Regions from separate parts of the Homo sapiens genome. Here region 2 is linked to region 1. Evidence: fine-mapped expression QTL. A gene starts in region 1. The other region holds a variant in brackets. All regions are shown on one strand. Distances are from middle to middle. Region 1 holds the start of CLPX (caseinolytic mitochondrial matrix peptidase chaperone subunit X). Region 2 has its middle 27 kb from the start of CILP.

The links.
Region 2: its variant is fine-mapped to the expression of CLPX in whole blood (INTERVAL, PIP 0.99).

Annotation. Positions count from the first base shown.
Region 1 is chr15:65,176,063-65,188,879 of GRCh38, reverse strand. CLPX (caseinolytic mitochondrial matrix peptidase chaperone subunit X) reads left to right here and starts at 3,538. Exons shown (of 14, transcript NM_006660.5): 1 at 3,538-3,805; 2 at 8,676-8,836; 3 at 9,829-9,946. The coding sequence starts at 3,727. RefSeq lists a silencer at 3,290-3,599 and an enhancer at 3,021-3,905.
Region 2 is chr15:65,230,161-65,245,884 of GRCh38, reverse strand. It overlaps a transcript of PARP16 not described here. Among named protein-coding and RNA genes, the nearest start is that of CILP, 27 kb to the right of the region's middle. RefSeq lists enhancers at 5,116-5,616, 5,617-6,117. The variant C/T (reference allele first, on the strand shown) is at 8,056.

The DNA of each region.
Region 1 (12,817 bases):
CTGCCCAGGCTGGAGTGCAGTGGCATGATCTCGGCTCACTGCAACCTCCGCTTCCCAGGTTCAAGCGATTTTCCTGCCTCAGCTTCCTGAGTAGCTGGGACTACAGGCACACATCACTGTGCCCAGCTAATTTTTGTATTTTTAGAGACGGGGTTCACCAGGTTGGCCAGGCTGGTCTTGAACTCCTGACCTCGTGATCCGCCAGCCTCAGCCTCCAAAGTGCTGGGACTACAGGCCTGAGCCACCGCGCCCGGCTACAACCAAAGTAATTCTTAAGTAAAGGAAAGATGGTGGGTCACTTCCTTAATAGGAGGGCAGATTTTTATTCCTTGATGTGAGATGTTCCTGGGTAGGGGGTAGAGATTCTGCAGACCCCTAAAATCTCATCAGCTTTTGGAATAAGATATAGAGAAGTAATGGAAACCCATATGGTGATTTGGATTTAAGTCTGGGTTCTGCTGTGACCTTGGGCAAGTCACTTAAACTCTCTGTGTCTTGATTTTCTCAGCTTCAAAACTGGAATGCTGATAATAACAATATATCATTTGGTTGTTGTAATAATCAAATGAGAAAGTGGATGTGAAAACCCTTTGTAAGTTATAAAGTTCAATACGATGTGTTAATATTATCTTGAGTTCGCACCACCTACAGATGCAGGTCCTTATCTTTTAAAATACTGAGTTCCTCAATATTTATATTTATATCCTTCCAGGGATAATCAATGTCTGCTGATATGAAGGAGCAGGGTTTGGCCATGAAAAAAAAAGTCTTTATTCAGAGGATACAAAGATTCCCAAAAGAATGATGACTCTCTGAGAAGATGTGCCAGAATTTCTGGTGGAGGAGAGGAGAAGCGAGATTTTTTGTTGTTGTTGTTGAGATGGAGACTTGCTTTGTCACCCAGGCTGGAGTGCATTGTCACGATCTCAGCTCACTGCAACCTCTGCCTCCCAGGTTCAAGCGATTCTCCTGCCTTAGCCTCCCGAGTAGCTGGGATCACAGGCGTGCGCCACCACACCCGGCTAATTTTTGTATTTTTAGTAGAGACGGGGTTTCACCATGTTGGCCAGGCCAGTCTGGAACTCCTGACCTCAGGTGATCCACCTGCCTTGGCCTCCCAAAGTGCTGGGATTACAGGCGTGAGAAACTGCGCCTGGCCGAGAAGTGAGATTTTTATGTTTATCGAAAAGAGTCTTGGGTTAAAAAAGAAAAGCTTGAGAAATACAGTTTTAAAGCCAGAAGACTCCAGCTCTATTCTCTGTTTTTCACTTGTTATGTGACCCTGGTCAAGTATCTGCCTTTTCAATAGGCCTGTTTCCTCATCTAAAAAAATCAGGGTTAATATTGAGTGAGTTAAGACTCATGGACTCTAATTTATTAAAATATTTCTTATAGCAACTCATAATGCTGGGAGGTAAAATCAAGTATAAAAGAAAAAGAGGGCCTGCATGGTGGCTCACACCTGTAATCCCAACACTTTGGGAGGCCAAGGCAGGCGGATCATGAGGTCAATAGATCAAAACCATCCTGGCCAACATGGTGAAACCCCGTCTCTACTAAAAATACAAAAACTAGCTGGGCGTGGTGGTGTGCGCCTGTAGTCCCAGCTACTCAGGAGGCTGAGGTAGGAGAATCGCTTGAACCGAGGAGCCAGAGGTTACAGTGAGCCAGGATCGCACCACTGCGCTCCAGCCTGGCCACAGAGTGAGACTCCATCTCAAAAAAAAAAAAAAAAAAAAGACAAAAGAAAAAGTTTTACATAAAATGAAGACATAAAAAGTTATGTGCCTGACTGGGTGCAATGGCTCATGCCTGTAATCCCAGCACTTTGGGAGGCTGAGGCAGGCGGATCACTTGAGGTCAGGGGTTTGAAACTAACACGGCCAACATAGTGAAACTCTGCCTCTACTAAAAATACAAAAATTAACCGGGCATGGTGACGCATGCCTGTAATCCCAGCTACTCAGGAGGCTGAGGCAGGAGAATCACTTGAACCCAGGAGGCAGAGGTTGCAGTGAGCTGAGATGGTGCCACTGCACTTCAGCCTGGGTGACAGATGGAGACTCTGTCTCAAAAAAAAAGTTATGTGCCTTCAGCTATGTAGTTCGCAAAAAGTAAATAACTCAAGGAGTTAACTCCTCCAGTGTAAACTATTTGAGCTGGAAAACTGCACTTGACTTTCTTTTTAAAGCGTCATTAATCTGTCAGAAAACAGCTGAAAGTAGGTGTGATGTGGAAGGGCTGATGTGACCACAAGTATTTGCCATCACTTTCCTGGTGAAGGATCCATTTTCTCACAGGGATAATCTCAGATGGCTCTGGGTTTTTTTTTTTTTTTTTTGAGACGGAGTCTCGCTCTGTCGCCCAGGCTGGAGTGCAATGGCACGATATCGGCTCACTGCAACCTTCGCCTCCTGGGTTCAAGCAATTCTCCCACCTCAGCCTCCTGAGTAGCTGGGATTACAGGAGTACGCCACCACACCTACCTAATTTTTGTATTTTTAGTAGAGATGGGGTTTCACCATGTGGGTCAGGCTGGTCGCAAACTCCTGACCTCGTGATCCACCTGCCTCGGCCTCCCAAAGTGCTGGGATTACAGGTGTGAGCCACCACGCCCAGCCGGCTCTGTGCTTTTGAATTCATAACTTGAGAGGATGGCCTGATAGGAACCTGACCAGAGGTTATCTATGCAGTGCCATCCTTAATCACGGCCGGGTGCGGTGGCTCACGCCTGTAATCCCAGCACTTTGGGAGGGCGAGGCGAGAGGATCACTTGAGCCCAGGAGTTTGAGACCAGCCTGGGCAACATAGGGAGACCTCATCTTTACTAAATTAAAAAAAAGAAAGAAAGAAAAGAAAACCCTCAAGACTTTAAAGCACCCACGGACTAGCAACAGCTAGAAGCTTTATCACCACGAGGCCTGAAAGAACAAGGAGACGGAGCTGTTACCAACTAACAATTGCTGCTCAGGGAACTAACTGACAATACCAACTCCATGTTACAAGTGATGAAACTAAGGAGAATGAGAAGATAAGGAACACAGGATGTGGAATTCCGGGGGAAGAAATTTAGTGAATCTGAAGCATCCAGCGCCTACCAAGGCACTTTAGAGACTTCCCCCTGGAGGGTTAAGCCACCAGCCTCACCTTGACCTTCCCTGCCGCCCACTAAAAGTGACCGGAAGAGCTCGACTATGACGACTCGGGACTACAAGTCCCGGCATGCATCTCTCCGCGTCTATCGCAAAACCTTTCAACTTTAGGATAAAAGGGCTTTTGGCAACCTTGAGCGTCGGGACCTGTAGTCGCCCCAGTTGGGGCTAGACGCTTGCCGTAGGGAACTCATTGGCGCCCAGGGCACCACCCCCTCGCCTTCGCCTCACGTAGCTTCACCAGCTCGCAAACACGGCGCGTGCCCACGCCCTCCGCCCCCTCCCCGGGCCTAGGGCGCAGGCGCGCGCAAGCTCCCCGGGCCCAGTAGGCTGGGGGTGGGGGTAGAAGGAGAAGGAGGGGAAGGGAGGGGGGGGTTGGGTGTCTACTCTGGTGAATAGACGGCTGTGGGGCAGAGAAGCGTGAAGGCCTGGCTGCCGGGCAGGTGAACTCTCCACGGGGTCTAGGGCCCGCGAAAGGGTTCGGAACCGAGTCAGCGCGCCTTGCGGGCAGGATTCACGCCGCTGTGACCCGGAGGTCCTCAGGGGGCGAAGCCCCGGCCTAGGCCTCGCGGAGATGCCCAGCTGCGGTGCTTGTACTTGCGGCGCGGCGGCCGTCCGGCTCATCACCTCCTCACTCGCCTCCGCGCAGAGAGGTAACGAAATAGTGCCACTCCTGAGCCCTCAGCCTGTCGGGGGGGGGGTGGACTGGCCAATGGTTGGGGGCCCCGGGGAGGGCACGAGGCCTGCTGCACCCGGGGAGTGTGAGGGAATGCGCGGCGCTTCGCCCGGCACCCACCACTTTCCCCGTGGAATGGGGCTCTGCCAACCTCTGGAGCAGCCGTTGCTCAAATTGGAAGTAAACTCCTTCCCACGCGCCTGCCTGCACGCTTTCAGGCCTGCTGACTTTGGGGCCGGAATGCGGCCACTTTGTAGAAACCCTGAAAGGCACAAAATGCTCCTGTTATTAAAAAATGTCTCCAGATCCCACTCAGCCCTGCCGGGGACCGCCGCCTGCCATGGCTGCGGCTCTTCTTCCGCAGCCTGGCCGGGATCCCCCTCGGGCCCGTTGGGGGCTCCAGGAGGGGCTCGGCTGAGGATCTGTCCCTACTAGGGTCCCCCAGGACTCGGGGCACCCAGCTGGCCGTCCCGGACGCAAGCCGCGCGATACCCGAGATGTTACTATCACTGTGCGGCCCTGACACTGGGACATAAACAAGGTTCACAATACTTCCCGGCGTCAGGCAAGCCCCGGGGCCCGCAGGACAGCGGCGGGAGAGATGGGGAGAAGTCCCGCAGGAGTTGGTTCGGAAGTACTTGGGTGTTTCAGCAGTCCTTTGCTGGCTTTCCCAACTTGACCGGGAGGTAGTTTCCTAAGAGTGGCGCATGTTGTTTACCTTTTCTTTCTGTTTATCTGAAGCTGTGAAAGAATGGCGCCCCAGCCAAGAGAGTCTGGAAAATAAACTTTTTTTCTCTTCCTCAAATCTGTGGAAGTCAGACCACGAGGCTAGATCCTGTTATAATGACTGACTTCTAGACAAATTCGTTTTATTTTGGCTTATCGGTTTATGACCCTTGGATGGATTTTTAAAAAGGCCCCTTTTATCTAACTTCTAAGCCAATTATAAAATCCTTATTGTTTACTAAATATATCTTCCAGTTTCTTTACTACAGAAGGAAGGATTGAATGAGGTAACGTGGGCAGAAGCATTTTGTAAAATGATATATAAATGTAAGGGAGTAAATTTAATCCTAAATCGATGTTAAGCCTCAACCAGTAGATGTCCCGATTCCAGGAATTCGATTTGCAAACACTTTAAAGTGACATATTTTAATCCATTTATCTGATATATATTAATATTTGTCAAGGGTCCACTGTGTGTCAGGCCTTCTTTTAGTGCTGGAGGTAGAGTGGTGAATAAGTCCTCACCCTCATGTTTAAATCTAGTGGAGTAGACAAAGAATAATACAGTTTCCAGTGGGTGGATGAAGTATGTGTGTGTTCCCTTTGGTCAGGGACGGCTTCTTTGAAAGTGTTACTGATCTCTTGTAGCCAAGAGTCCGTGAACATTTTTGAATCATAGGAGATAGGCAGTTATTTTTTTTTCTTTTCAAAACGACTGTTTTCTTTCTTTTTCTTTTCTTTTCTCCTTCCTTCCTTCCTTCCTTTCCTTCCTTCCTGTCTTTCTTTCCTTTCTGTCTTTCTTTCCATCTACTATCTGTCTTTCTGTCTGTCTTATTTTCTTTCTTTTTTTTTTTTTTTTTTTTTTGAGACAGAGTCTCGCTCTGTCGCTCAGGCTGGAGTGCAGTGGCCAGATCTCAGTTTACTGCAAACTCCGCCTCCTGGGTTCACGCCATTCTCCTGCCTCAGCCTCCCGAGTAGCTGGGACTGCAGGCGCCCGCCACCACGCCTGGCTAATTTTTGTATTTTTAGTAGAGACGGGGTTTCACCGTGTTAGCCAGGATGGTCTCGATCTCCTGATCTTGTGATCCGTCCGCCTCGGCCTCCCAAAGTGCTGGGATTACAGGCGTGAGCCACCGCGCCTGGCCTCTTTTTGTGTGTCTGTCTTGATGGAATCTGCTAAGTTGCCCGGGCTGGAGTGCAGTAGCGCGATCTCGGCTCACTGCAACCTCCGTCTCCTGGGTTCAAGCAATTCTTCTGCCTCAGCCTCCTGAGTAAGCTGGGGTTACAGGCGCGCGCCACCACGCCCCACTAATTTTTATATTTTTAGTAGAGACGGGATTTTGCCATGTTCGTCAGGCTGGACTCCAACTCCTGGACCCCAGGAGATCACCCGCCTTGGCCTCCCAAAGTGCTAGGATTACAGGCTTGAGCCACCGCACCCGGACTAGTATTTCTTTTTAAAAACAGTTGTTCTGAAATTTAGAAAGCTTTGTCTGTATGATAAAGTTCTGTAAATAGTGAAACTTAAATTGTCTTTTCTGGTTGCTGCCAGGTAATCTGGTGAAATATACTTTACAGAAACACTTCTCTTTTTTGGCTTTCAGAGCTTCACCTGGGGTTTACAGGCCTCCAAAGGGTCCTTGAATAGAATTCAGAGATTCTGTGAACTTTATTTTCACTAAGCTCTAACTGAAACACAACGTTTCCTTGGCCTATGAATGTGGGCAACACATCCACAGTAGTCTTAGAAGTGTCTGTGGATTTGTCATCAATCAAAATCAGAAATATTTTCATATCACATTATAGTTGCTGATATTTCAGAATATTGTCCATACTTTTTGCTACTTTGAAATCATAGTAATTATTTAAAAAGCTGTTAGATCTTATTTAATTTTGCTTGTTAATAAAGAGGCATATTTTAAAAATTTTTTGATAACTACTTCATTATAATTTGTTTCCTTTGTTATGTATTTTATTTTATACATTTAAAAATATTATTCTGAGAAGATCTATTCAGAGGCTTCACCAGACTGCTTAAGGGGTTCATGGCACAAAAAGTGTTAGAAATCCCAATTACTTTGCTACAGAGCTTTATCATTTTTATGAGGATTTTATGATTGGTGAATGGTCATTTTGATTGATTGCATCTGTCACTCTCCCTCAATTACTTTTTCTTTTTCTTTCTTTCTTTCTTTTTTTTTTTTTTTGAGACGGAGACTCTGTTGCTTAAGCTGGAGTGCAGTGGTGCCATCTCGGTTCACTGCAACCTCTGCTTCCTGGGTTCAAGCGATTCTTCTGCCTCAGCATCCCGGGTAGCTGAGACTACAGGCGCGTGTCACCATGCCCAGCTAATTTTTTGTATTTTTAGTAGAGATGGGGTTGCACCGTATTAGCCAGGATGGTCTCGATCTCCTGACCTTATGATCTGCCCCCCTGGGCCTCCCAAAGTGCTGGGATTACTGGCATGAGTCACTGCACCTGGCCCCCTCAATTACTTTTTCTAAGCCTACTTTTGGGATTGATACTATCTTTATTTATTTATTTATTTATTTATTTATTTATTTATTTATTTATTTTGCGACAGAGCCTCGCTCCGTTGCACAGGCTGGAGTACAGTGGCGCAATCTCGGCTCACTGCAACCTCTGCCTCGTTCAAGTGATTCCCCTGCCTCAGCTTCCCAAGTAGCTGGGATTACAGGCACCTGTCACCACGCCTGGCTACTTTTTGTATCTTTAGTAGAGACAGGGTTTCACCATGTTGGCCAGGCTGGTCTTAAACTCCTAACCTCAAGTGATCCACCCACCTCAACCTCCCAAAGTGCTGGGATTACAGGCGTGAGCCATCACACCTGGCTCCTTCAATTTTTTTATTGTGGTAAGATACATATAAAATTTACAAGACTTAACTATTTTTAGTGTATAGTTCGGTAGTATTAAGTACATTGATACTGTGCAACCATTGCCATCATCTTGTGAAACTGAAGCTCTGTACCCATTACAACAATAACTCTCCATTTTCCCCAACCCCCAGGAACCGCCATTCTACTCACTGACTCTATGATTTTGCCTTCTAAGTACCACGTGTAAGTGGAATAACACAATTTTTTAAAGAACTTTTTTTTTTTTTGAGACAGAGTCTCCCTCTGTTGCCCAGGCTGGAGTGCAGTGGCATGATCTTGGCTCACTGCAACCTCTGCCTCCTGGGTTCAAGCAATTCGCCTGCCTCAGCCTCCTGAGTAGCTGGGATTACAGACGCCTGCTAGCACACCCAGCTAATTTTTGTATTTTTAGTAGAGACAGGGTTTCACCACGTTGGCCAGGCTGGTCTCGAACCCTGGGATTACAGGCATGAGCCACCGCGCCTGACCTTAAAGAACATTTGAAGTTTGTTTCCATTGTTACAGATTTTTTTTTTTTTTTTTGAGATGGAGTCTCGCTATGTCACCCAGGCTGGAGTGCGGTGGCACGACTTCAGTTCGCTGCAAACTTCGCCTCCCGGGTTCAAGCGATTTTCCTGCCTCAGCCTCCCGAGTAGCTGGGATTAAAGGCGCCCACCACCATGCGTGGCCAATTTTTTTTTATTTTTAGTAGAGACGGGGTTTCACCATGTTGGCCAGGCTGGTTTTGAACTCCTGACCTCTAGTGATCCACCCGCCTAGGCCTCCCAAAATGCTAGGATTACAGGGGTGAGCCACCACACCCGGCCCAGATAGTATTCTTATATAATAACAGATGAGTTGCTGTCAGATGTTTATTCTCATTGGTAGAAATAATAAGAATATAGGGCATAAATGGCCTTTTTCAAAATCTTACAGGTGAGGCAGATGTTGAAGTCCATTCAAACTTTGAAAAAGTTATGACGTGGGTGATCTTGCCTTATTTCCAAAGGACACATACAGAAAGAAACACCTTTATTTATTTAGAATCTTTCAGAGGCCCAGACCTGCTGGCCTGTTTTTGAAAGGACTTTGCCTCCGTTGGTGTCATTTTTTTTCTCTCAGTTTATACTACTGTGAAAATGATAGCTTTTTTTCAACCTCCTTTATGCTCAAGGAATTTTTGTTTCCAGGGGATTTATTGAGGCATGTCTATATTTGATGTAGATTTCCTTTTATTTTCAGGTATTTCTGGTGGTCGCATTCATATGTCAGTTTTAGGAAGGCTTGGGACATTTGAAACTCAGATTCTGCAAAGAGCTCCTCTTAGATCCTTTACAGAAACACCAGCATACTTTGCCTCAAAAGATGGGATAAGTAAAGATGGTTCTGGAGATGGAAATAAGGTAATTATTTTATCTTATTGGCATCTGTACACATTGTGAGTTCCCTCCTTTAAAAAAATATAACAGTACTGTCTCTTACTGGCTTATATGTTTTCTGTAGGAAATATGAGATAGCTAAAATGATCTGAATAATTTTATGTAATTAGATGTTTCATTTTGAACCTTAAAATACTTTTATAAGCATTGCACATAGTAAGCAGTAATTAAAATTTCTTACACCCCAAAGTAGTAAAGAAGTGTCATTAAATGACAGTCAGTAGGATTGAATTAGGAATAGCCATCATTTCCTGCTTTCATATAACTCTTATAACCCATGGCAGTATAAACCTCACTTTATCCTCTACCTAAAAATTTCAGATTTGTGGTATAACTTAATGTTGGGCTACTCTGGTAGCCTAAAAATTTCATATTTCTGGTATAACTTTATGTTGTAGCTAGTATAACTTATGTTGGTAGTTGTATTGAGTCAGTGACTTAACAGTTTTTTTCATTACGTGAATTTGACTAACACTTGAGTTAATTTTATATGTTAGACAAAATGTGAGACACTTACATATCCATACTTAACAGTGACTCTGATGTGAGTAAAATTATTCCCATTTTAGAGATGAGAAAAGTTAGATCTAAGAATAGTCAGAGTCACTACCTACCATGATAATAACTCCTGATTCAATTTCATTGAAATGTAGTTTTTTACCCTTAGTAAATTTTCTAGTGCCTGAGTCATTGAATGAAAGCTGTTTATTATATATGTTGGCACATGTTATACAAAGGAGGACTGCAGATATATATGTATTTACTAGAACTGATTTGATTTTTGAAGTAAATAGATCTTCTGACACCAGTAATAGAATTATAAAATATACTAATAATTTCATCCTAGAAATATAGAAGATTATAAAATTAATTACAAACAGTATTGTTTACATTTAAGTTGGTTGCCTGAAACTAATAATTGACACTCTTCCTTTTTTCTCCTTCATAAACGTTAGAAATCAGCAAGTGAGGGAAGTAGTAAGAAATCAGGCTCTGGGAATTCTGGGAAAGGTGGAAACCAGCTGCGCTGTCCTAAATGTGGCGACTTGTGCACACATGTAGAGACCTTTGTATGTAAGTATTACATCTTCTACTGTTCTTTTTTCCCTACATTTTCTGTAAATTACTAAGTGTATAAAAATATGTAAATTATGTAAAATGTATAAATATAGGCCAGGTGCAAACGGCTTATGCCTATAATCCTAGCACTTTGGAAGGAGGAGATGGGAGAATCCCTTGAGCCTAGGAGTTCAAGACCTGCCTGGGCAACATGTTGAGACACCTGTCTTTCCAAAAAAAAAAAAAAAGCCAGGTATGGTGGTGCATACCTGTGGTCTTAGCTACTTCTTTTAAGAAGGTTGAGGCTGCAGTGAGCCATGGTCATGCCACTGTACCCCATCCTGGGTGACAGAGACCCTGTCTCAAAAAAAAGAAATATATATATATAAATTGTATTAAATGTGTAGAAATATGGATTATATGAAATAGATAAATGTATGTGACTTTGTATGTTATATAAATTATATGTAAATTGTATGAGCTTACCTGATTCTCTCTTATGTTCACTATATACTAGAAAATCTTCAGGACTGGTAATACTTTGCACTGTTGTGTAAGAGATAATTTAAGAAAAACATTTGCTTCTTTATTTTGCTTACTTGTGTTTATTTCAAATTAGATTTTGTGAATTTCTGGATGTGATCATTAGGCTATAGGAGAACCAAGACTTATTTATTCTGTATTTATTACTACTTTCTTCAAATACATATTGAATATCTCACATGGCTGGGAAGGCCAGTCATTCATATATTAAGGTAATTTCCCTTAGTACTTACCAAAGGAGGTAAGCCCTCAATTCCGGGAAGCATCTGATAATTATTAATGATTCAGACACTCAGAGAAGGAAGAAATCAGGGCTGGGCACAGTGACTCACACCTGTAATCCCAGCACTTTCAGAGGCTGAGGTAGGCAGAGTGCTTGAGCCCAGAAGTTCAAAACCAGCCTGAGCAACATGGCAAAACCCCATATGTATAAAAAAATAAAATTAGCTAGGCATGGTGGTGCATGGCTATAGTTCCAGCTACTTAGGGGCTGAGGTAGGAGGATCGCTTGAGCCTGGGAGGTGAGGCAGCAGCGAGCCAGCCATTGAATTCCAGCCTCGGCGACAAAGCAAGAACCTGTCTCAAAAAAAGAAAAAAAGAAGGAAAAAAATCATGTATCCTACTTTTGCTGTTAGTGTCAGTAACTCTCTGAAATGCAAAGATTCTACTACAGATATTTTCATTAATGAATCAAATAATCAAAAAACTCATTACTTAACATAATTTAGAGTTAATGGTAATGAATTGTACCACCATGTCAGCCTTCCTATACAATCCAATTGAAGAAAGCTTCAAGATTGTAAGACTTCAGTGTCTGATGGTTGGCTAGAGAGTATTCTCTATCTCCTAACCCTAATATTGAGACTTTGGTTACAATTTCACACTTACCATTAACCATAATTGGCCACCATATGAAAAGGTACTAGATGTAGTGTGTTTTTATGTACTGGAAAGACTTAAAGTAGCTCCATCCCATAGCTGGAATATTAGGGGTTCTGAACAAAATTTAATTTGGATCACAACATAAAATGAAAGTGGGCCAGGCGCTGTGGCTCACACCAGTAATCACAGGACTTTGGGAGGCCGAGGCGGGCTGATCACTTGAGGTCAGGAGCTTGAGACCAGCCTGCTCAATATGGTGAAACCCCATCTCTACTAAAAATACAAAAATTAGCCGGGCGTGGTGGCGTGCATCTGAAGTCCCAGCTGTTCGGGAGGCTGAGACAGGAGAATCTCTTGAACCTGGGAGGTGGAGGTCATGGTGAGCCAAAATCACACCACTGCACTTCTCCAGCCTGGGCGACAGAGTGAAACTCCATCTCAAAAAAAAAAGGTAGAACTGGATGATAAAACCTTCTAAACAAATTTGATGTGATATAATAAAATTATACAGAGGCTGAAAATTGTTCAATTTATAAGGTCAGTGTCTTATATTTTAATCAAGAAATTTTCCTCCTTTTTTTTTCTTCAAAGAAACATTTCAACCTTTATAGACCTAAAGAATAATTTGTTGCCAGGCGCGGTGGCTTACACCTGTAATCCCAGCACTATGGGAGGCTGAGGTAGGCAGATCACCAGAGGTGAGGCGTTCAAGACCAGCCTGGCCAACGTGGTGAAACCCCGTCTCTACTAAAAATACAAAATTAGCTGGGCGTGGTGGCGGGCACCTGTAATCCCAACTACTCAGGAAGCCGAGGCAGGAGAATTGCTTGAACCTAGGAAGCGGAGGCTGCAGTGAGCCGAGATCACACCACTGCACTCTAGCCTGGGAAACAAGAGTGAAACTCCGTCTCCAAAAAAAAAAAAAGAAAGAAAAAAAAGAAAAAAGAATAATTTCTTAGAGTAGAAAAGGAAAGAAACTAATATTTAATAAATGCCAACATATATAGTTTTATTCTTGCACCCTTAATTTTGCCAGAACAAAGAGTATTCTCCTTTTTATAAATAAACTGAGATTTAGCAAGTTTAAGTAACTCATTCAAGGTCACATAGCAGTGAAGATTTGCTATTCAGAAATTCCTATATCATACATTTCTACCATCTGGAGATACTTTAGGAGTAAACTAGCTCCTCTTGGGATTAAATTTATTTTCCTTCTATGCATTCTTTCCAAAACTTGCCAGGTTGTATTAGTCACTGAAGGTGACTGTTAAACTTAGAGATTCCCAAACTCCTTCCCTAGAGATTAAGATTCTGTAGATGTGGGATGGAGTCCTAGAATTTGTATGTTAGTAGTATATGTATATTATTAGTTAGACCAAGTGTGGAAACACTACTTTAGTGTAATCAATTCAAGGCTGAGGCCTGTTTGCTTTGAGAATTCTAATTGTGGGTGGTGATATG
Region 2 (15,724 bases), 56 kb before region 1:
AAAGCAAGAGAGCAGGCAATGGGTTGTGGCCAAAGTAATGTGTTTAAGGAAATTTCTGCTTCATGCTGGCCAGGACAGGGAATGTCTGGTCAAATAGCTGCTGACGGCCAGGGTCCCTGTAAGTAAACAGGCCGCCTCTGATGGCTGTCCTGAGCTCATTTCCCTCAGCAGCGTGCAAGGGGATGATGTCACCATGAGTGGGGCCTCCTGGTCATGGAGTTTGTCAGTGAGCAGGATGGAAGCTCGGTGATTGCTGGCGGCCTGGGTGCTGTGGCCTAGTTATTGCAAACAGCTGCTTCCATACAAGCAGCTCTGACACCCTCCTACACATACTCCATGGGACTCTAGCCACATCCATGACCCCACAGCAGCGGTGTTCCTGGCGAGATCTGGGATTAACTGTCCCATATCCAGCTTCTATCCAAAGCCTCTTCCCTCAGCCAGAGAGCTGGGCTTCCCCTGGTCTATGAAGGGCACAACTTCAGTTGTAAGGAGTGGCCCCTAGAGGTACAGGCTCATGTTCTGCCCCTGCAGAGAGCAGATAGTGGCAACGTGTCCTACCGCCTGTCTCCTGGGGCTAGGCAGCCAGGTCCAGAGGGGGACTTTCCATGAGCAGAGAGCCCAGGTCAGGGGAGGTTAGGAGGTGGGGTGGCGAGGAAGCCACAAAGCCCTCTCTGTGCCTCCCCCACAGGCTCTTCCTGAGCCTTGCAGCCACGAGGTGAGGTTCATGGGATTTGAAAGCCCTGCAGCAGAATTACTGAGGAGCAGCTGCCAGTTTGGGACAGGCTCTATAGCCTCCCCACTCCCCCAGGCCATCCCTGTGTCACCTCCTGGCCAGGGAATGGGGAGCAGTAAGACTCTAAATAGAGATGGGCAAGAATCTTCTTAGGGGTAGGCCTGGGCCTTTTCCTTCTTGTATCCCCCCAGCATCCTGGCCTGGCTTTGCAGTTGGCTTGTCAGTCATACAGACCAACCCCACAGAGTAAGTGGCCCACTCAACAGCTGCCTGACCTACTCCAGGCTGACCAAATCCTCAGACCAACCAACAGGCTCACAGGAGACTCACTACTTCTGTGATGTACAGCCTGATTAACCAATAGGCCATCCTGTTAGTCTACATATTCAACAAATAGTCATTGAACACTTAGTTTGTGCCAGATCTTGTGCTGGCTGCAGGGGATACAGCCATAAACAAGACAGACAAGATCCTTGCTCTTAAGGCACTGAAAGTAAGCCATATGGCTTGGCTGTGTCCCCACCTAAATCTCATCTTGAATTGTAATTCCCATAATTCCCATGTGTTGTGGGAGGGACCCGGTGGGAGATCATTGAGTCATGGGGGCGGGTCTTTCCCGTGCTGCTCTCATGACAGTGAATAAGTCTCACGAGATCTGATGGTTTTATAAAGGGGAGTTCTCTTGCACACACTCTCTTGCCTGCTGCCATGTAAGATGTGACTTTGCTCTTCCTTCATCTTCCGCCATGATTGTGAGGCCTCCAAGCCATGCGGAACTGTGAGTCCATTAAACCTCTTTCCTTTATAAATTACCCAGTCTTGGGTATGTCTTTATTAGCAGCATGAGAACAGACTAATATAGTAAGTAAACAATGATGGAGTGTGATCTGTATATTATATATTATATGAAGGAAGTAAATGAGATTATGTGGGAGATAGTATCCAGCAGGCCATCCCCTGGATATAACAAAAGTCAGGGAAGACCTTCCTGACACATTATCTGAGACCTGGAGATTGAGAATGAGAAACGACCATGCAAAGAGCCTGTGGAAGATCTTACCAGATGGAGAAAGGCAATGCCAAGGGCTTGAGGTGGGGAAGAGCTTGGCATACTCTTGGGATAGCCAGAAGACCCATATTACTGGAACATGGTGAGGGGAAGGCAGTAAGACCCTTAAGCAGAGAGGTGGGCAAGAAGCTTCTTGGGGGTTCTTGCCTAAGGGGAAGGCAGCATGTGGAAGGGCTGCAGAGGAGGGCAGGAGCCTACCAGACAGGAGACAGGGCCTTGGGAGTCACAATAAGGACTTAGGGAGGAGTGAGGGGAAGGCCCTGAGGGTTTACACAAAAGTGTGACACATATTCAAGAATAAATATGTAATGGAATTTATATAATAGTTAAAAACCTTCCCACAAAAAAAAATAAAATGAAACCCTCCAGGCCCAGATGCCTTCACTAGTGAACTCTACTAAACATTTAAGGAAGAAATAATACCAACTTGATATAAAATCTTCCAGAATATTGAAAAGGAGGGAATACTTCCCAACTTATTCTATGAGGCCAGCCTTACCCTGATACCAAAACCAGACAGAGATATTCCAAGAAGGCATGGCCACTCACGCCTGTAATCCCAGCACTTTGGGAGGTCAAGGAGGGTGGATCACTTGAGCTCAGGATTTCAAGGCCAGCCTGGGCAACATGGTGAAACCTTGTCCCTACAAAAAAGACAAAAATTAGCCAGGTATGGTGGTGCATACCTGTAGTCCCAGCTACTTGGGAGGCTGAGGCAGGAGGACCACTTGAGCCTGGGGAGGCGGAGGTTGCAGAGCTGAGATTGCGCCACTGCACTCCAGCCTGGGCAACAGAGCCAGACCTACTCTCTAAAAACAACAACAAAATCATACTTCATGGTTAAAGATTGAATGCTTTCACTCTAAGATTGAGAATGAGGCAAGAAATATCTGTTCTTACCACTTCTATTCAAGATTATACTGGGGGTCCTAGTCAATGCAATATAGGAAGAAAAATATAAACCATATAGTTTGGAAAGAAAAAAGTAAAACTGTCTTTATTTATAAATGACATATATATGGAAAATCTTAAGTAATCTAGGAAACCTAAAATGAGTAAATGAGGGACCAGGCGCAGTGGCTCACGCCTGTAATTCCAGCACTTTGGGAGGCTGAGGTGGGCGGATCACCTGAGGTCAGGAGTTCGAGACCAGCCTGGCCAGCATGGTGAAACCCTGTCTCTACTAAAAATACAAAAATTAGCCAGGAGTGGTGGCAGGCACCTGTAATCCCAGCTACTCAGGAGGCTGAGGCAGGAGAATCGCTTGAACCTGGGAGGCAGAGGTTGCAGTGAGCCAAGATCATGCCACTGCACTCCAGCCTGGCCAGCCGAGCAGGACTCCATCTCAAAAAATAAATAAATAAATAAATAAAATGAATAACTGAGGTTAGCAAAGTTGCAGGATACAAGATTAATATATGAAAACTAATTGTGTTTCTCTATATAAGCAAAAAACACTTGGAAATTGACATTATAAAAACAATCTATAATACCATCAGAACTCCAAAACAGGGATAAATCTGACAAAAGATGTGCAAGCAATTAAAGAAGATATAAATAAGTGGTGAGAGATACTGTGTTCATGGATCAGAAGACCTGATGTTTTCAAGATTACAATTTTCTGAAATTGGCATATAGATTCAAAATAATTCCTGTCAAAATTGCAGCAATCTTTTTTTTTTTGTAGTAAACAAGCTGATTCTAAATGTATGTGGAAATGCAAAGGACCTTGAATAGCCATAACAATTTTTTAAAGTATTATGCAATTAGATTACTGGCCCTACCTGATTTCAAGACTACAGACAGAGCTACAATAATCAAGACAGTGTGGTATTGATGTAAAGATAAACATATAGATCACTGAAAAAGAAAAGGCCATCCAGAAATAGAGATATACACATATTATCAATTGATTTTTTATGAAGGTGACAAAGTACCTTTGGGGAAAAGATAGTATTTTCAACAAATGGTGCTAGAACAACTGGATATCTCATGGCAAACAAAATGAACCTCTATCCTTACTTCACACCATACACAAAAATTAATCCAAGTGGGCCACAAATCTAATTACAAGAGCAAAAACTATACAACTTCTAGAAGAAGACGTAGGGGAAAATCTTTATAACCTTAGGTTGGGCAAAACACTAATAATCAGTGAAAAGGTTTATAAACTTCATTAAAATTTAAAACTTTTGCTCTCTAATGATACCACTAGAAAAACGAAAAGACAACTGTCGGTGGGAGAAAATATTTGCAAAACATATATCCAACAAAGGACTTGTATCTAGAATATATTTTTTAAAAACTTCCTTATATACTTAGAATATATGAAGAATAAATGATTTGTATCTAGAATACATAAAAATATATACACTCAATATAAAAAACTAATGTAAAAAAATGAACAAAAATTTTCAACGGACACTTTGCTGAAGAAGATACACAAATTGCAAATAAGCACATGAAAGGATCCTCTTTGGTTATAAGAAATGTAAACTAAAACATAGTGAAATACCACTGCACACCCACTAAAAAAGCGAAAATTAAAAGACTGACCATATGAAGTGTTGGCAAGGATGTGAAACAACTATAACCAGTTCCACACTAGCGGTAGGAATGTATAAGCACTTTAGAAAACTGGCCGGGCATGGTGGTTCATGCTTGTAATCCCAGCACTTTGGGAGGCCAAGGTGGGCGGATCACCTGAGGTCAGGAGTTCGAGACCAGCCTGGCCAACATGGTGAAACCCCGTCTCTACTAAAAACACAAAAATTAGCTGGGTGTGGTGGCACACGCCTGTAACCCCAGCTACTTGGGAGGCTGAGGCAGAAGAATCACTTGAACCTGGAAGGCAGAGGTTGCAGTGAGCTGAGATCATGCCACCACTGCACTTCAGCCTAGGCAACAGAGTGAGACTCCATCTCAAAAAAAAAAAAAAAAGTTTGGACAGGCATGATGGCTCATACCTGTAATCCCAATACTTTGGGAGGCTGAGGGGGGCAGATCACTTGAGGTCAGGAGTTCAAGACCAGCCTGGCCAACATGGCAAAACCCCACCTCTACTAAAAAAATACAAAAAATTATCCAGGTTTGGTGGTGTGCACCTGCAGTCCCAGCTACTTGGGAGGCTGAGGCACGAGAATTGCTTGAACACAGGAGGCGGAAGTTGCAGTGAGCCGAGATTGCACCACTGCACTCCAGCCTAGGCAACAGAGTGAGACTCTGTCTCAAAACAATAAAAATAGAAACAGTTTTGCAATTTCTCAAAAAGTTAAACATACACCTACCACATGATCCAGTCACTTCTCTCCTAGGTATTTACCCAAGAAAAACGACAGCAGAAGCTCATACAAAGACCTATACATGAATGGTTACAGCAGCCTTGCATATAATAGCTAAAAACTGGACAGCCCAAATGTTCATCATCAAGTGAATGGGTAAAAAATTGTGGTATATTCATACAATGGAATACTTATTACTCAGCAATAAAAAAAATACTGATACAATGAACATGGATGAATTTCAAAATTATTAAGCCATATAAAAAAGAGTATATAGGCCAGGCACAGCAGCTTGCGCCTGTACTTTCAGCACTTTCAGAGGCTGAGGTGGGCGATTGATTGAGTTCAGGAGTTTGAGACCAGCCTGGGCAACATGGTGAAACCCCATTCTACAAAAAAATTGGCCGGGCGTTGTGGCTCACGCCTGTAATCCCAACACACACACACACACACACACACACACACACACACACACTAGCCCCCCCCACCACACACACACACACTAGCCAGGCGTGGTGGCGGGCGCCAAGCTACTTGAGAGGCTGAGGCAGCAGAATGGCGTGAACCCGGGAGGTGGAGCTTGCAGTGAGCCGAGCCACTGCTCTCCAGCCTGGGCGACAGAGCGAGACTCTGTCTCAAAACAAAAAAAAGAAAAGAAAAAAAACATTAGCCGAGCATGTCGTGGTTCATGCCTGTAGTCCCAGCTACTTGGGAGGCAGATGTGGGAGGATTGCTTGAGCCCAGGAGGTCAAGGCTGCAGTTGCAGTGAGCCGTGATCGCGCCATTGCACGCCAGCCTGGGTGACGGAGTGAGACCCTGTATTTAAAAAAAAAAAAAAAAAAAGGTCAGACGCGGTGGCTCACGCCTGTAATCCGAAAACTTTGGGAGGCCGAGGTGAGCGGATCATGAAGTCAGGAGATCGAGACCATCCTAGTTAACGCAGTGAAACCCTGTCTCTACTAAAAATACAAAAAATTAGCCAGGCGTGGTGGAAGGTGCCTGTAGTCCCAGCTACTCGGGAGGCTGAGGCAGGAGAATGGCGTGAACCTGGGAGGCGGAGCTTGCAGTGAGGGGAGATCGCGCCACTACACTCCAGCCTGGGCGACAGAGCAAGACTCTGCCTCAAAAAAAAAAAAAAAGAAAAAATTACATACTATTTTCTATCACATAAAATTCAGAAGATGTAAACTAGTTGGTAATGGCAGAAAGCATATCAGTCATTGCCTAGGAATGGGAGGTGGGGAAGGGAAGTTGGATTTCAAAGGAGCACGAGAAAACTTTTGGAGGTCATAGGTATAGTTCTTTTTCATTTTTTCTTTCTTTTCTTTTTTTTTTCTTTTCTCTCTTTTTTTTTTTTTTTTTTTTTTTTTTTTTAGGCAAAGTCTTGCTCTGTTGCCAGGCTAGCGTGCAGTGGTGGGATCTCAGCTCACTGCAACTTCTGCCTCCCAGGTCCAAGTGAATCTCCTGCCTCAGCCTCTTGAGTAGCTGGGACTACAGGCGCACACCACCACACCCGGCTAATTTTTGTATTTTTAGTAGAGACCGCAGTTTCACCATGTTGGCCAGGATGGTCTCGATCTCTTGACCTCGTGATCCGCCCACCTCAGCCTTCCAAAGTGCTAGGATTACAGGCATGAGCCACCGCACCCAGCCTTCCTTTTTTTCTTTGAGTCGGGATCCCACTCTGTCACCCAGGCTGCTGTGCAGTAGTGCAATCACAGTTCACTGCAGCCTCAAACTCCCAGGCTCAGAGAATCCTCCTGCCTCAGCCTCCCAAGTAGCTGGGACTACAGGCACATGCCATCATACCTGGCTAATTGGTTTTTATTTTTTGTAGAAATAGGGTCTCACTATGTTGCCTAGGCTGGTCTCAAACTCATGGCCTTAAGCAGTGCTCCTGCCTCTGCCTCCTGAGTTGCTTGGATTACAGGTGTGAGCCACTGCACATAGATATGGTTGTTATCTTTATTATACTGATGCTTTCATGGGTATATGTCAAAACTTAGCAAATTGTAAGCTTGAAGTGTGCAATTAATTGCATGTCAACTATACCTCAATAAAGGTATTCAAAAAACTGCAACCTGATCTAATTTGTTTCTTAAAAAATCACCCTGGCTGCTGTAAGAAGGGATGGAGGGGGATGAGAGTCGACATGGGAGTCATCAGGCAGCTGGCACAGTCACCTGAGTGAGAGATGCTGCGGCTGCAGTGATGGCAGTGCGGAGTGGAATGGACAGATTTGAGAGAGATTATAAGACCTAAACAACAAGACAAGACTTGCTAGCAGTTTGGATAAACTGCATGAGGGAAATGGAGAAATCCAGGATAGCTATCACATTTCCAACTGGAGCATGGAGTGACTGGGGCAGCCTGGGCCAGGGACAGATGTGGTGGTGAGCGTGGAACAAGAGTTCTCTTTTCATCTACCTCTGGGGATGCCTGGGCTCCAGGAGAAGGGTCTGGATGGAGATAAAATTTGAGGATATTAGCAAATAAATGTTTTTTTTTCTTTTGAGGCAGAGTTTTTGCTCTTGTTGCCCAGGCTAGAGCGCAGTGGCATGATCTCAGCTCACTGCAAACTCTGCCTCCCGGGTTCAAGCAATTCTCCTGCCTCAGTCTCCCAAGTAGCTGGGATTACAGGCCCCACCATGCCCTGATAAATTTTTTGTATTTTTAGTAGAGGCAGGGTTTCACCATGTTGGCCAGGCTGGTCTCAAACTCCGGACCTCAGGTGATCCACCTGCCTCGGCCTCCCAAAGTGCTGGGATTACAGGCGTGAGCCACTGCGTCCAGCCAATAAATGAATGGTATTTTAAAGCCAAGTGAATGGATGAGATCATGTAGGGACAGAGAATAGAGAAAAAAGTAGTATGAGAACTGAGCCCGGGGCACCCCAACATTTAGAGGTCTCCTGAAGGAGAGGGAGCCTGTACAGCTCATCAGGAAGGAGCAGCTTGAGAAGTACCCAA[C/T]TGCATTAATTTCCTGTGGCTGCTGTAACAAATTACCACAGACTGGGCAGCTTAGAACAACCAGAGATTTATTCTCTTACAGTTCTGGAGGCCAGAAGTTCAAGATCAGACCACTGGGCCAAAATCAAGGTGTTGGCAGGGCTGTACTCCCTCTGGAGGCTCTAGGGGAGATGTTGTTCTTTGACTCTTCCAGCTCTGGCAGCTGTTGGCCTTCCTTGACTTATAGCCACATCACTCCAATCTCCCTCTCTGTGGTCACACTACTTCCTCCTCTTCTGTTCTAATCAAATCTCCCTGTGCCTCACTCCTTATAAGACCCTAAGGACACATAGAATTTAGGGTCCACCCAGATAATCCAGGATGTCCTCCTCTTCTCAAAATCCTTAATTAATTACATCCATGAAGACCCTTTTTTCCAAATTTGGTTACATTCACAGGTTCTGGGAATTAGGATGTAGACACATCTTTTGGGACCACCTCTTAATCCATTACACCCACTGACTGACAAATAAGGGGTGACTCACCGAGTGATGCAAAATGGCAGGACTTCCTGTGTCTGGGAGGAGGGACTGAGTAGGTTAAGTGTAGGGTGCTCAGCCTGAAATCTCAGGCAAGGAGGTATAGGGCCAAGGCTGCAGCTGGCTTCAGCCTGTGTGGGAGAGTCTCATGGGGAGGGGAGGAACTGCAGATAGGAGGTTCCCAGCCCTCCCAGGCCTGACTCAGCGTCTGGCTGGGGCCATCTACACAGCAGCCAAAGTGATCTTTAAGTTGTAAATGTGTTCATATCACTCTCCAGTATGTGACCCTTCAACAGCTTTCCACACCTTTTTTCTTTTTTTTTTCTTTTTTTTTTTTTTTGAGACAGAGTCTTGCTCTGTCGCCCAGGCTAGAGTGCAGTGGTGCAATCTCGGCTCACTGCAACCTCTGCCTCCAGGGTTCAAGTGATTCTCCTGCCTCAGCCTCCCGAGTAGCTGGGACTACAGGTGCCCGCCACCACATCCAGCTAATTTTTTGTATTTTTAGTAGAGATGGGGTTTCACCATGTTGGCCAGGATGGTCTCGATCTCTTGACCTCGTGATCCGCCCACCTCGGCCTCTCAGAGTGCTGGGATTACAGGCATAAGCCACCGTGCCCAGCCAGCTTCCCACAACTTTTATGCGGAAGTCCAATACCATTACCCAGCCTACAGTGCCCAGGGGCCTGGCCCTAGCCCACCACTGCGGTCTTGTTTCATACTTCCTGTCCCTGCTAGCTGTCTCAAGACATACTAGCTGCCTCTCAGGCTGCTGTTTCTCCTACTCTAGGGCCTTGGCCTGGTATCCCCTCAGCCTGGAAGGCTCTTGTTCAACCCACTTCATTGAGTTAGCATCCAATGGTGTTCCAGATCTCAATCCAAATGTCTCTTCTGCAGAGAATTCTCTCTTGGTTCCCTGGTCCAGGTCATAAAAATGTGTCATATAAATTCTCATGGCTCCCTGGAATCATCTTCCATAGGACCATCAAAGTTCATAATTGTGTACATATTTGTAATGTTATTTTATTAATGTTTGGCTCTACCACTAGACTGTAAGCACCACAGGGTTTGTAGTATTCACCGTTCTATTCTAAGTGCCTTGTCCAGTGCTTGACAAACAGAAAGGAGATGTGGTGGGTTTAAAACATGTCTGCAGGGCTGGGCACAGTGGCTCACGCCTGTAATCCCAGCACTTTGGGTGGCCGAGGTGGGTGAATCACCTGAGGTCAGGAGTTTGAGACCAGCTTGGCCAACATGATGAAACCCTGTCTCTACTAAAAATACAAAAAAATAGCTGGGCATGGTGGCACATGCCTGTAATCCCAGCTACTTGGGAGGCTGAGGCAGAAGAATCGCTTGAACCTGAGAGGCGGAGGTTGCAGTGAGATCGTGCCACTGCACTCCAGCCTGGGCAACAGAGAGAGACTCAGTCTCAAAAAAAAAAAAAAAAAAACCATATCTGCAATTTTTTTTTTTTTTTAAGACAGGGTCTCACTCTGTCGCCCAGGCTGGAGTATAGTGACGCCATTATGAATCAAAGGTAAGTTGAGCGATTAAACAGCTCACTGCCCCCTCGACTCCAGGCTCAGGCGATCCTCCCACCTCAGCCTCCTGAGTAGCTGGGACTACAGGCATGTACCACCATGCCCGGCTAATTTTTTTTTTTTTTTTTTTTGTAGAGATAGGGTTTTACCATATTGCCTGGGCTGGTGTTGAACCCTGGGCTCAAACAAACTGCCCACCTCATCCTCCCAAAGTGCTGGGATTACAGATATGAGCCACCATGCCTGGCCGGCAAATTTTTTGACATCCTTTCCATCAAGAGGTAGAATCTAATTGACCTTCCTTTAAATATGGGCTGGTCTAATGACTTGTATCTAATTAACAGAATGTGACAGAAATGCTGTGTGACATCCGTGGCTAGGTTCTAAAAGGTAATGTGGCTTCCTCCTGACTCATTCTCTTTTAATTTTTATTTTATTTTATTTTTTATTAATTTTTTTTGGGGGGGACGGAGTCTCTTTCTGTCGCCCAGGCTGAAGTGCAGTGGCGCGATCTCGGCTCACTGCAAGCTCCGCCTCCCAGGTTCATGCCATTCTCCTGCCTCAGCCTCCCAAGTAGCTGGGACTACAGGCGCCCACCACTACGCCCGGCTAATTTTTTTTTTTAAATATACTTTAAGTTCTAGGGTACGTTTGCACAACGTGCAGTTTTGTTACATATGTATACATGTGCCATGTTGGTGTGCTGCACCCATTAACTGGTCATTTACATGAAGTATATCTCTTAATGCTATCCCTCTCCCCCACCCCTTTTTTTTGTATTTTTAGTAGAGACGGGGTTTCACCATATTAGCCAGGATGGTCTTGATCTCCTGACCTCATGATCCACCCGCCTCAGCCTCCCAAAGTGCTGGGATTACAGGCGTGAGCCACTGTGCCCGGCCCCTTTTTAAATTTTTTTAAATCTCTTTTTGGATGCTCCCTTTCAGGACCCACCTGCCATGCTGTGAGGACACCCAGGCCACATAGAGAGAGTGAGGCCACATGTAGGTTTTACAGCCAGAAGCCCCACTGAAAACCAAACCTGCAACCAGCATCAACTGCCAAACATGTACTGAAGAGGCTGAGATGATTCCAGCACTTGTGGATGACTGCAACCACATGAGAGACCCAGAGCAAGAGCTACCTAGCTGAGCCCAGTTACTCCCAGAATCATGAGAGAACTATGTAATTGATTGTTATTACTATATAAGCCACTAAGTTTACATATGATATGTTATGCAGCAGTAGACAGCTGGAACAGGAGCCAATAAACACCGAATGAATAAATGTGGATAGGTCTGGTTGAATGAACATTGCGTGTGTTTCAGCTTTGTGAAAGGTTTAACTGACAACTCTCAGCTTCTCCCCCAAGAGGTCTTGGAGATTCTGGAAGCCCCAGTTCAGAAACTCAAGCTCACCCAAGGAGAGAATCCCGGAAACTCTCAGCTCAGGACAGGAAACATGGAGAGGCTGTCAAAAGTTAGCTCTGAGCCTGATGCAGTGGCTCACACCTACAGGTAATCTCAGTGCTTTGGAGGCAGACATGGGAGGATCTCTTAAGGCCAGGAGTTCAAGACCAACCTGGGCAACATTCTTATTCTTGGGCCCATGGATAGTTTCAGGGGAGTAAAAACATACATTTTATCTGTGTGTATGTGCATTTTCCCGAGGAGAAGTTATCCAAGCTCTGTTATCAGATTCTCGAGTCTGTGTCCAAAAAATGTTAAGAACTACTGATCTAGTCCAACTATCTCAATATCTACGTTAAGATACTAAGATATTTTATGGTACTAAAGTGGACTAAGTACCCTGAATAAACTTCTGAAAACAATTATGGATAAAAGAAAAAAAATTTTTTTACTGCACTGATGAGTTGGCAAGAAAGTAAGGAATACTCAGGCCAAAAAAGTCACGAATTCAAAGGCAAGTTGCGCAACGAAACTGACTTTTGCCTTTTGGACATTTTTATTTTATTTTTATTTTTTATTGTCTAACCTATTTGCAATTTAAATTTTTTTTTTTTTTTTTAATTTTTGTGATATAGTCTTGCTCTGTCACCCAGGCTGGAGTGCAGTGGCATAGTCCCGGCTCACTGCAACCTCCACCTCCAAGGCTCAAGGGATTCTCGTGCCTCAGCCACCTGAGTAGCTGGGACTACAGGCGCATGCCAGCCTGTCCCACTAATTTTTGTATTTTTAGTAGAGATGGGTTTTTTCCATGTTGGCCAGGTTGGTCTCGAACTGGCCTCAAGTGATCTGCCTGCCCTGGCCTCCCAAAGTACTGGGATTACAGGCATGAGCCACCGTGCCCGGCTTCTCTTAACAAGTTATTTTTTGTTTTTGTTTGTTTGTTTTGGTTTTGTTTTTTTTGAGACGGAGTCTCGATCTGTCACCCAGGCTGGAGAGCAGTGGCGCGATCTTGGCTCACTGCAAGCTCCGCCTCCTGGGTTGACACCATTCTCCTGCCTCAGCCTCCCTAGCAGCTGGGACTACAGGCGCCCGGCTAATTTTTTTGTATTTTTAGTAGAGACGGGGTTTCACCATGTTAGCCAGGATGGTCTCAATCTCCTGACCTGGTGATCCGCCCACCTCGGCCTCCCAAAGTGCTGGGAATACAGGCGTGAGCCACCGCACCTGGTCAACAGGTTTTTAAGTGTACAGTTCAGTATTAACTATAAGCACAATACTGTACAGCAACTCTCTAGAACTTATTCATCTTGCGTGACTGAAACGACATCATTTTAATTTTTTAAAATTTTAAACTTTTTAATTTTTTATTTTTTGAGACAAGGTTTTGCTCTGTTGCCCAGGCTGGAGTGCAGTGGCACCACCATGCTCAACTGTTTTTTTTGTTTGTTTTGTTTTGTTTTGTTTTTTGTAGAGATGGGGCTCTCACTATGTTGGCTAGGGTGGTCTTGAACTTGTGGTTCTCACGCGATCCTCCCTCCTCAGCCTTCCAAAGTGCTGTAATTACAGGTGTGACCCACTGCACCCAGCCCATTTTTTATTTATTTATTTGTTTTTTCTTTTTGTGGAGAATGGGGTCTTGCTATGTTGTCCAGGCAGTTCTTGAACTCTTGGGCTCAAGCTAACCTTCTGCCTCTGCCTCCCTAAGTGTAGGGATTATAGGTGTGAGCCACTGAGCCTGGTCCGGTGAGTAATTTTTAACTCAGTAAACTTGAACTTGAATTTTCATGGTCTCATGGGAGTGAGTGATTAGAGAGAACCAGTGGTGTGCTAGTAACTGGCTCTCCAACAAAACAAAGCACTGTTTTGTGTACAGTTCAGTATTAACTATAAGCACAATGTTGTACACACATTTTTTAGTGTTTCAGTTTTTGTTGATTTCCATTAGGTAAATGTTCCCACCATAGATTTCAAGCCGTCAGTGGTACTAAGAACTGACACGAAAAATATTTGGTTCTTGTGAGCTGATAGGAGCAAACTCCAATACACACTACTGAGAGAAACTCAGGGCTCCTTTAAGGTGGGAAGTCTAAAAAACCTAAAATTGGGACTTCAGTGAATGTGTGAGCTAGATATAAACACCACTACCTCCCAACAGACTGAAAAGAAAAATGCCTATCTTAATTTCCCTATTCTTAAGAGAAAAATACCACTCCCAAAGTGCTGGGATTACCAGTGTTGAGCCACCATGCCCATCCCCCTTGCCCTCTTTTGCTATGTGCTTTAGGAGGTAGGTGACGGTGTAGTCTAAACTGGCACAGCAGCTGGAGGACACAACTGTAGGTACAAACAATAAGCAAGAATTCATTGGCACTAAAAATTTTTAAAAAGAATTATAAAATCAGTGAAAAGATATCTTAAAAGTAAGAAAAAACAATGACATGATACAAACAAAAACTGTATTTGCCACCAGCAGGCAGAAATAAAAAGTGATCCTAGATGGAAAAAATGAGAGACAAGAAGGAATATGGAACAAAGAAAATGGTACATGTGTGGGTAAGTCTAAACAAATGTTGTATTAACATTAATAACAATGTCTTATGGGCTTAAAAACACAGGCCAAGCATGGCGGCTCACACCCGTAATTGCAGCACTTTGGGAGGCCGAGATGGGCAGATCACTTGAGGTCAGGAGTTTGAGACCAGCCTGGCCAACGTGGTGAAACTCCGTCTCTACTAAAAATACAAGTATTAGCTGGGAGTGGTGGTGCGCCTGTAGTCCCAGCTACTCTGGAGGGCGAGGCACAAGAATCTCTTGAACTGGGGAGGCAGAAGTTGCAGTGAGCCAAGATCGTGACCCTGCACTTTAGCCTGGGTGACTCAGAGCGAAACTCTCAAAAAAAAAAAAAAGGTATAATTTGCAAACTATGTAAGGAGAAAAATGAAATAAAGAATAATTAAGAAAGCCAAAAAGAATAGAAAAGGAAACCTTAGAAAAGGTGGGGAAAATACCAAACAATAGGATATACGTAAATAAATAACGTGTGTGCGCACACATGCACATATCAGTATATTAATAAATGTAAATGGACTCAATGCCTCAGTTAAAAGACAAAGATTGCTAGACTAGACAAAGCAAATGAACCCAGTTATAAGCTGTTCACAAGAGGCATATCTAGGCCGGGCATGGTGGCTCACGCCTGTAATCCCAGCAGTTTGGGAGGCTGAGGCAGGGAGATCACCTGATGTCAGGAGTTCGAGACTGGCCTGGCCAACATGGTGAAACCCCATCTCTACAAAAATGTAAAAACTAGCCAGGCATGATGGCAGGTGCCTGTAATTCCAGTTACTCCGGAGGCTGAGGCAGGAGAATCACTTGACCCTGGGAGGCGGAGGTTGCAGTGAGCTGAGATCGCACCACTGCACTCCAGCCCAGGTGACAGAGCAAGACTCCATCCATCAAAAAAAAAAAAAAAAAAAAAAAAAGGGCATATCTAAATAAAACATAAGAATACAGAAAGGTTGAAAGTAAGAGGATGAAAAGAATCTGTCAAATACTAACCAAAGAAGGTTGATATGTCTGTATTAATTTTAGTCCACATAGACTTTAAGGCAAAAGCATTATGAGAGATAAAAGGGTCACTTCATAATGACAAAAGGTCCAAATCATCAGAAAGAACAATCCTACATTTATACCCACCTAATAACACAACTTAAATATATATAAAGCAAAAAAAAGGTAAGGAAAGTAAAATAAAAATAGGTAAATTCACAACACAGTGGAAGATGTTAGCACACTATTAAAGTAGTATAATTACTACTAATTTTTAGTAATTACTGATATATATATATATATATATTTTATTATTTTTTAAATTAGCTACTTGGGAGTCTAAGGTGGGAGGATCACTTGAGCCTGGGATTTTTGAGGCTGCAGTGAACTGGGTCATGCCACTGCACTCCAGCCTGGGCAACAGAGCAAGACTCCGCTCCAAAAAACAAAATCTAGCTGCTTTGTACTGTTCCTCTTCCCTATCCTGCTTCCCCTATTTCCTACTGGTTTCTCCCGGGACCATTTCTTTTTTTTTTTTTTTTTTTTTTTTGATACAGAGTCTCACTCTGTCACCCAGACTGGAGTGCAGTGGTTTGATCTCAGCTCACTGCAACTTCTGCCTCCTGAGTTCAAGTGATTCTCTTGCCTCAGC